Regions from separate parts of the Homo sapiens genome. Here region 2 is linked to region 1. Evidence: fine-mapped expression QTL. A gene starts in region 1. The other region holds a variant in brackets. All regions are shown on one strand. Distances are from middle to middle. Region 1 holds the start of POLR2I (RNA polymerase II subunit I). Region 2 overlaps WDR62 (WD repeat domain 62).

Region 1 (4,381 bases):
GCCTACAATCGTGTAATCGTGGGGAGGCTGAGGCACTAGAATCGCTTGAACCCGGGAGGCGGAGGTTGCAGTGACCTGACATCATACCACTTCACTCCTGCCTGGGCGACAGAGCAAGACTCTGTCTTTAAAAAAAAAAAATGTGTATGTCACATCAGAAGATGGGACTTGGCATAGAGAAAGTAAGGACCATGGGATAGTGAGGGAAGGCCCTGGAGAGTGACAGGCACACACACTAATCACTGTCTCCCACCTGCCTTCCTAATCCTCCGTGGTGGCTCAGGACACTCTGTAAATACTCATTTGCAGAGTAACAAAGGGTGGATGGGGTCCAGCCAGAGAGGCTAATAACTCCTGCATCCCTCCAGCAGCCCACACAGGGCAACCTGACCTCTGCTCCCAGGGGCCCTGGGACGCTGGGCTGCCCGCTCTGCCCTAAGGCCTTCCCTCTGCAGCGCATGCTGACAAGGCACCTCAAGTGCCACAGCCCCGTGCGCCGCCACCTGTGCCGCTGTTGTGGCAAGGGCTTTCATGACGCCTTCGATCTCAAGCGCCACATGAGGACTCACACTGGTGAGCAGTGGCAGGGACAGGGAAAAGTTGCTGGGCCCCAGGTGGGGATGGAAGGAAATGGAGAGAGGTGCTGGGCTGTGGAGTGTCCATGGTTTGTGTATGTGGGGTATGGAGAATCAAGACATGATGTCTCTCGGACCCCAGTGGGTGGGTGTAAGGTGGCACCAAAATAGGGGCCTGTCACGGAATGCAGAGTGCAGACGGATGCCGGTTATACGATTCAGGCTCCAGATCGAAAGGCAAGGGAAGGCCTCCCTCTCCATCCCCCAGGGGAGGGAGCATCCTGGTGAGGGAGAGTGGAGACACAGGTGTCTGGCCCATGTCTGCACTGGGTGACGGTAGCAGATGGTGGGTCATGGGCGGAAGAGTCTGAAGAGCTTGGAATAGGTACCAGAAATGCTCAACACTGGAAAGCAGGGTGGGGGCGCTTTAGTCCAGAGCCCATTGCCCTCTCTGTCCAGCCCTCCCCTCTGCGCCCATCTGTGCAGGGATCCGGCCCTTCCGCTGCAGTGCTTGCGGGAAAGCGTTTACGCAGCGCTGCTCCCTGGAAGCTCACCTTGCTAAGGTGCATGGACAGCCGGCCAGCTACGCTTACCGTGAGCGCCGCGAGAAGCTGCACGTGTGCGAGGACTGCGGCTTCACCAGCTCCCGGCCCGACACCTACGCACAGCACCGCGCCCTGCACCGCGCAGCCTGATACGGTGTGCCAGCGTCCTCCCCACGAGGCAAATAAACACAGAAAACTCACGCATGGAATCTGGTGTTTATTACACTCGGGGGAGAGAGGAGGTCACTCGGTCCAGCGGTGGCCGCAGTGTGGGGCTGTGCACACGTAGTAAAGGCGCATGGCGTCCTGGCAGAAATGATGCATGGTTAGGAAGGATTTGGACCCAGCAGCGCCTTACCCCAAAAGAACAGGCAAGAGAACTTCACCAATAGGTAAGGGCCCGGCAGAGTTCCAAGAAGCGCAGGGTCACCCACATTGATATCCCCGCCCCCAGAAAGGACCAAACAAGCCCCAGATACTTAGAAAGCCCTCGCGCCACTTACCTCGGCCCGCGCACTGTGTGACTGGAAGAACACAGCCTCCTTGTGGCCGCACCTGAGAGGGTAGGGGCTCGGTCACCGGAGGCTTCACACCCTTCCCTCCTCCCTTCGCCCAGTGAGGAGACGAGCCTCACTTTACCTCCCCAGTACCAGCTGAACGCTCACTTTTGGCACGGGTGGTCCTCGGTCCGCGGCAACGTGGGGTCCTGGGACACGTCGGCGATAATCTGGGTCAGTTCGCTGCAGGGACGCGGGGGTGCAAAATTACGCTCAGACCCAGCCTCCAGAGCCAACACCCCCGCCCCCAGCTCAGGGCCCGCCACTCACTCCACTTCGTGCGTGATCTTGTTGACATAGATGCAGCTGTTGTCGGCCTCCTGCTGGTAATCACAGTTCCGGCACTACGAGAGGGCGAGTGTGGGGGAAAGGGGGTCACGGAAGGATTCCAGACAAGATTGGGAGGAGAGGGCAGGGTGATCCCGGAGGATATGACGACAGGACTCTCTTTGGGGATGGGCAGGACATGAGAGTCAGGATCACTTGAGGTGCAGCGGAGGGCGAACAGGGAGTCCGATCACAGAGGCAGGGGGCAGGGCGGGGCCACGCTGGGAACAGGTGGACCTGCCGGGGAAGACCCCGGCGCTCACCGCGTAGAGCAGAATGCGGTTCTCCTTGTCTTCCTTGGGGTACAGCATGTTGTTACTGTGGGGAGGGGGAGGTGCCAGGGGTTAGTTCTGGAGCCATTCCTCGCCCGCCTTCTAACATCACCCGCTCCCTCCGCCTCACCATTCCTGGCAGAAGCGAATACCCACGAAGCCCGGCTCGTAAGTCCCGTCGGGCTCCATGGCGACGCGCAGCCCGCGCAGCCCTCCCAGCCTTCCGCGCTTGCTCCGCCGCGCTACAGGTCGCGGGAGGGGCCAGGCCTAGGTGCTTCGCCAAAAGAGGGCGGAGCTGCGCACACGTGCTGGCTCCCCGCCGCCTCGGGCTCGGCTCTCTCCGCGCAGAGGTTTCATGGCTTGCTTCAATCTTTTGATATCTTAGAGTAATTGCTTCCAATTTTTGGGCATCGCCGCCTCAGTTTACAGAATAGTATGGATCTGGTGCCAGAGCCGGGAAAACGATGCGCATCGTAAACCGCAAAACACTGAGCATCCAGGACAGAAGCCAAGGCGCTTGGCTTGGTTGAAGGCCAGTGCGCATGCGCGAGTTTACCCTTCGCGGACTGGGCGAGCTCTTGCCACTCCTACCTCCGGGCTTCAGTCTTCGCCGCCTGTTCTGGTCCTTTCCCGGGCCGCTATTGGAAGAACCGTGAACTATGGAAGGCCCCTCTGGATTGGCTGGGCTGGCCCAAGAGTAAGGAGAGCCCTCTTCCTGGCGGTGGGGAAGGGACGGCGGCGATTGGCGGACGCTCCTGGCAGGAGAGCGCGGATTGGTCAGGCACGGAGCAGGAGGCGGGGCTGATAGCCCAGCAGCAGCAGCGGCGGCGGCGGCTGCGGAGCGGGTGTGAGGCGGCTGGACCGCGCTGCAGGCATCCGCAGGGCGCGGCAAGATGGAGGTGACGGGGGTGTCGGCACCCACGGTGACCGTTTTCATCAGCAGCTCCCTCAACACCTTCCGCTCCGAGAAGCGATACAGCCGCAGCCTCACCATCGCTGAGTTCAAGGTGTGGCCATGGGGGCGGGGTCCGGAGGGGCGGGGCGAAGAAATTGGGGGGTTCCCGGAAGGGGGAGGCTGGGAGGGGCCGGGGAGTGACTGGGCGGGCCCGGAGGTGATCCCAGGCTGCGGAGGCTGGGGACCCGGTCGCGGCGGGGCGGGTCCGGAGAGAACTCGAGAGTGCAGAGATGAGGGCCGGGTCCAGCGAAAAATCCGACGGTCCAGAGGGCGGGGGCAAGAGGCGAGGGGCTGGATTGCGGCCCCGTGCGTCCTGACTGGGGGGTCTTTTGGAGGAAAAGGGACGTGGCGATGGTCATTGATGCAAGGGGCGGGGCCTCCGTGGCCTCCTTCTTCTCACCCTGCCTCCTCCTCACAGTGTAAACTGGAGTTGCTGGTGGGCAGCCCTGCTTCCTGCATGGAACTGGAGCTGTATGGAGTTGACGACAAGTTCTACAGCAAGCTGGATCAAGAGGATGCGCTCCTGGGCTCCTACCCTGTAGATGACGGCTGCCGCATCCACGTGAGGACTCTCTATCTGGGACACTCCCCCACCCCACCTTTCATTTGGTTATTCAACAGACACTTGCTGGGCTTTGCCCTCAGTCATACCCGAGATAGGTCCTGCCTTCGTGGAGCCTCCAGTGCAGCCTGACGAGAGACAGACCCATCATTAGACAGGGACAGCCTAGAGTGGTCTGGGCTGGGATCAGGAAATCCCAGGGGACTGGAGCCACCAAGAAGAGGTGCCTGACTCCACCTGGGAGAATCAGAGAGGGCTTCCTGGAGGAAGGGATGTCTGAGCTGAGGGATGAGGAAAGGGTGACTTAAGAGAAAGAGGTGGAAAGGAGGGAGCAGGGTGTACAGAGGCCTAGAATGTGAGGTAGGTCACAGTGAGCGACCAGGCTGGACAGCTTGGGAGAAACCAGAACACAGGATCTCTTTGTGCATCCACTCAGTACATCCTTTCTGTCTTTTTTTGAGACAGAGTCTCACTCTGTCACCCAACCTGGAATGGAGTGCAGTGGCACTATCGGGCTCACTGCAGCCTTCACCTCCTGGGTTCAAGTGATCCTTGTGCCCCAGCCTCCCGAGTAGCTGGGATTACAGG
Region 2 (4,321 bases), 28 kb before region 1:
ACATGGGGCTGGGGTGTGGGGCTTCAGCGGGCGGTGTGTGTCTCCCAGGATCCACGAGCTGCACTTCATGGACGAGCTGGTCAAGGTGGAGGCCCATGATGCTGAGGTGCTGTGCCTGGAGTACTCCAAGCCAGAGACGGGTGAGCCCGCAGCAGGGGTGGAATGGGGGTCAGGCAGGGAGGCAGCCCCCCTGGCAGGGCCACAGAAAGGGGTAGTTGGTGTCTGGTGGGACTGTGGATGACAGCTGGGAGTTTTGTGTTCGGTAAGGGCCCCTGTAGCTGGACCCTGAGACCAGAGTGGCTGGGACTTCAGAAAGCAAGACACCCGCAGGCAGGACTCAGCTTGACTTGCCCGCTGCTGGTGCCAGCACCCAAGCCAAAGGGGTGGATGTATGAATGAGTGAATTGTGAATGAGAAGATAGATTGATTGTTAGGCATTATTTTCAAAAAGTTTGAAGCCTATAGAAATATTGGGAGAATATTATAATGAACACCCCATAGGCTTCACCCAAATTCCTCAATTTTTTTTTTGAGATGGAGTCTTGCTGTCACCCAGGCTAGAGGGGAGTGGCACCATCTCTGCTGACTGCAGCCTCCACCTCTCTGGTTCAAGTGATTCTCGTGCCTCAGTCTCCCATGTAGCTGGGATTACAGGTGCCTGCTGCCATGCCTGGCCAATTTTTGTATTTTTAGTAGAGATGGGGTTTCACCATGTTGGCCAGGTTGGTCTCAAACTCCTGACCTCAGGTGATCCGCCCGCCTTGGCCTCCCAAAGCGCTGGGATTAGGGCATGAGCCACCACACCTGACCTTTTTTTTTTTTTTTTTTTTTTTGAGACAAGAGTCTCACTCTGTCGCCCTGGCCGGAGGGCAATGACGCGATCTCAGTTCACTGCAACTTCCGCCTCCCAGGTTGAAGCGATTCCCCTGCGTTCAAGCGATTCTCCTGCCTCAGCCTCTCGAGAGTAGCTGGGATTACAGGCACGCCCCCACCACACCCGGCTAATTTTTGTATTTTTAGTACAGACGGGGTTTCACCATGTTAGCCTAGGCTGAAGGCTAGGACCATAGTAGGGTCTCCAGACCTCATGGTCCTCTTCATTAAAACAACAGAAAATTCCTTCTGGGCCATCAGATGAGATCATGAGATAGGAGAAGATTTCCAAGTGAAGATTTCGTTTGTTTCAAGACAGAGTCTTGCTCTGTCACCCAGATGATATATGGATGATATATGGTAGCATTTTGTGTCCTTTTTCTTGTTTATTTTTAGCATAGAAGGTATTGCACGATGCTGGTCTCAAACTCCTGACGTCAGGTGATCCACCCGCCTTGGCCTCCCAAAATGCTGGGATTACAAGCGTGAACCACCATGCCCGGCTCCTCAAGATGTTTTCTAGGCTGGGCACGGTGGCTCATGCCTGTAATCCCAGCACTTTGGGAGTTACAGAGTTGGTGGAGTTATATCCTGATGTGATTTTCCCCATGTTCTTCTTTCGTTCTCTCATCCCCCATGCTGTGTGCCCCACCAACTTGTCTTGAAACATATCTTCACTCGGTTCGCCTCTCCTGATCTCCCCTCTGCCTCAGGTCATGTTATTAGGCCTCAGACATAGCAAGTGACCAGAGTAGGGAAGGCTGGTGGCAGATGGGAGTCTGGCCACAGGCAGTCAATAGGACCTGAACAAGGCCCAGGTAGCCAGACCTCAGAGGGTGAGAGGACACTGGTTTTGGAAGAGGCTGAGAGGTTGCCAGGGCTTTACCCAGCACAGACCCAGCAGGCAAGAGCGCTGGGCTCTGCTGGGGCGTCTGCTGTGGATGTCCCTGGAGGAGCGTCCATGCGCCCATCGAGACTCATCCTCCCTGAGCTGGTGGTGAGGAGGTGAAATGCCAGGGTGTGGGGGCTCTGGGAAAGACCACACAGAGCTAAGGGAGTGGCCCTTGCCAGGCTTGGGCCAAGTTGGCTACAGTTGAAGAACCAAAGACCCCTTCTCCGAGGACTGGGCAGCTTGGTCACACTGCCCTTCTGGGAGGCCAGGGCACCCACGCAGCCTTCAGGAACCAGTCTCATTCTCTCCTCTCACAGGGCTGACCTTGCTGGCCTCAGCCAGTCGGGACCGGCTGATCCATGTGCTGAACGTGGAGAAGAACTACAACCTGGAGCAGACGCTGGATGACCACTCCTCCTCCATCACCGCCATCAAGTTCGCTGGTGAGCCCCTTTCTTCCCGCTCCCTGC[G/A]CCTTGCTAGCTACCCTGCTAAAAAAGGATTCATTCTTTCAACTCTCCTGTAAAATATATATCCAAACAAGTGAATACAGTATCTGTGTACAGTATACAGAATAATGACTGGGGCCGGGTGTAATGGCTCACACCTGTAATCCCAACACTTTGGGAGGCCAAGGAGGGTGGATCACCTGAGGTCAGGAGTTCGGGACCTTCCTAGACAACATGGTGAAACCCCGTCTCTACTAAAAATACAAAAATTTGCTGGGCGGGGTGTTGTTTCTGTAATCCCAGCTACTCAGGAGGCCGAGGTGGGAGAATTGCTTGAACCTGGGAGGTGGAGGCTGCACTCCAGCCTAGGCAACAGAGTGAGACCCTGTCTCAAAAAAAAAAGAATAATGGCCAGGTACCATGGCTCACACCTGTAATCTCAGCACTTTGGGAGGCCAAGGCAGGTAGATCATGAGGTCAGGAGTTCGAGACCAGTCTGGCCAACATAGTGAAACCCCATCTCTACTAAAAATACAAAAAAATTAGCCAGGCATGGTGGTGTGCACCTGTAATCCCAGCTACTCGGGAGGCTGAGGCAGGAGAATTGTGTGAACCCGGGAGGCGGAGGTTGCAGTGAGCCAAGATTGCGCCAGTGACTCCACTCCAGCTTGGGTGACAATGCGAGACTTTGTCTCAAAAAAAAAAAAAAGAAGAATATAGGCCGGGCGTGGTGGCTCATGCTTGTCATCCCAGCACTTTGGGAGGCTGAGGCAGGCAGATCACCTGAAGCTAGGAGTTTAAGACCAGCCTGGCCAACATAGTGAAACCCCGTCTCTACTAAAAATTCAAAAAAAGTAACCGGGCATGGTGGTGCACACCTGTAATCCCAGCTACTTGGGAGGCTGAGGCAGGAGAATAGCTTGAATCCAGGAGGCCAAGGTTGCAGTGAGCCAAAATTGTTTCACTGCACTCCAGTCTGGGTAACAAGAGCAAAACTCCATCTCAAAAAAAATAAAAATAAAAAATAAGCTGGGCGTGGTGGCCGAAGTGAGTATCCACAGTTCTTAGGAGCAAGGTTTGAACTAGGACGTTGTTGATAGCAGAGACTGTTCTAATTGCTCATGGTCGTAATATTGTTAAATACGGTACTTGGATTCACCACGTGCAGGTTAAGAAGCAGAACATTACCAGAGGCTTGCAGGCCTTCTCTGGGTCCCTCCCAGGTTACCCTTCCTCCCTTATATGGGGCTCACTCCCTTCTGTGAGCCAATGACTCCTCCTTGAGCAACATCTAATACTTGTATGTCAGGCCTGGACCCTCTCAAATGTCCTGTCATGAAGGAGCATGTGTGATGTGCCCAGACTCAGAGTTTTATATTTGTTCTGTCATTTCATCCTCACCAAACTGTTATTCTGTAAAGAAATGAGACGGCCGGGGGCATCTCACGCCATTGCACTCCAGCCTGGGCAACAAGAGCGAAACTCTGTCTCAAAAAAAAAGAAATGAGAATAATAAAAGCAAGAATGTTTCTAATGCTTACCATGTGGCAGTCCCTGTTCCAAGGGCTTCACATCACTCTCCAGAGAAGGAACTGTCACCATGCCCATTGTACGGACCGGAAGTTGAGGCTCAAAGGGGAGGCCCAGGTTCAGAGCAGTGTTTAACAGCTTTGACCTTGGCACCAGAGAATGCCTGGGTTCAGTCCTGCCCCTGTCCTCTCTGTGTGCCTTGGGACAAGGACTCTGTGAACCTCTGTGTTCATGCTTGTCCAGTGGGATGGGTGGTGAGCATTCAGGAAGACCCGCTACATGCATGGGGCCTGGCCCAAGGCTCATGTGGATCTTGCAGTTGATCCTGATGGCACGAGCCTCCCAGCCTGTCTCCACTGGTCGCTGCTGCAGTCCTGCCTCTACTCCGCTACTCAAGTCACCTATCTCAATCCCAGACTGGAGAGGGTGTCCCTTCTTTGTCCCCAGCCTTTGTTTCTCTATATGCCCTTGCTCTGCAGAGCCTGCCTTGGCCACAGCTCCACCTGTGCCCCCTCACACGTACAGCTCATACCTTACAGAGTCCCACCCAGACCCAGCACCCACCTCACCACCTTTAGGA

What was found. PIP is the estimated chance that this variant, and not a neighbour inherited with it, causes the effect. A credible set is the group of variants that fine-mapping cannot tell apart.
Region 2: its variant is the best candidate, but not a certain one, in a credible set for the expression of POLR2I in whole blood (TOPMed, PIP 0.66).

Annotation. Positions count from the first base shown.
Region 1 is chr19:36,112,392-36,116,772 of GRCh38, forward strand. It overlaps POLR2I (RNA polymerase II subunit I), which reads right to left and starts at 2,484. Exons shown (of 6, transcript NM_006233.5): 1 at 2,407-2,484; 2 at 2,268-2,322; 3 at 1,948-2,021; 4 at 1,786-1,860; 5 at 1,624-1,675; 6 at 1,318-1,426. The coding sequence starts at 2,465. The coding sequence ends at 1,364. OVOL3 (ovo like zinc finger 3) reads left to right here. Exons shown (of 4, transcript NM_001302757.2): 3 at 369-573; 4 at 1,062-1,320. The coding sequence ends at 1,270. It overlaps TBCB (tubulin folding cofactor B), which reads left to right and starts at 3,077. Exons shown (of 6, transcript NM_001281.3): 1 at 3,077-3,283; 2 at 3,650-3,793. The coding sequence starts at 3,170. RefSeq lists enhancers at 1,468-1,979, 1,998-2,127, 3,718-3,807 and a silencer at 3,318-3,407.
Region 2 is chr19:36,084,605-36,088,925 of GRCh38, forward strand. It overlaps WDR62 (WD repeat domain 62), which reads left to right. Exons shown (of 32, transcript NM_001083961.2): 12 at 49-140; 13 at 2,083-2,208. Among named protein-coding and RNA genes, the nearest start is that of OVOL3, 24 kb to the right of the region's middle. The variant G/A (reference allele first, on the strand shown) is at 2,236.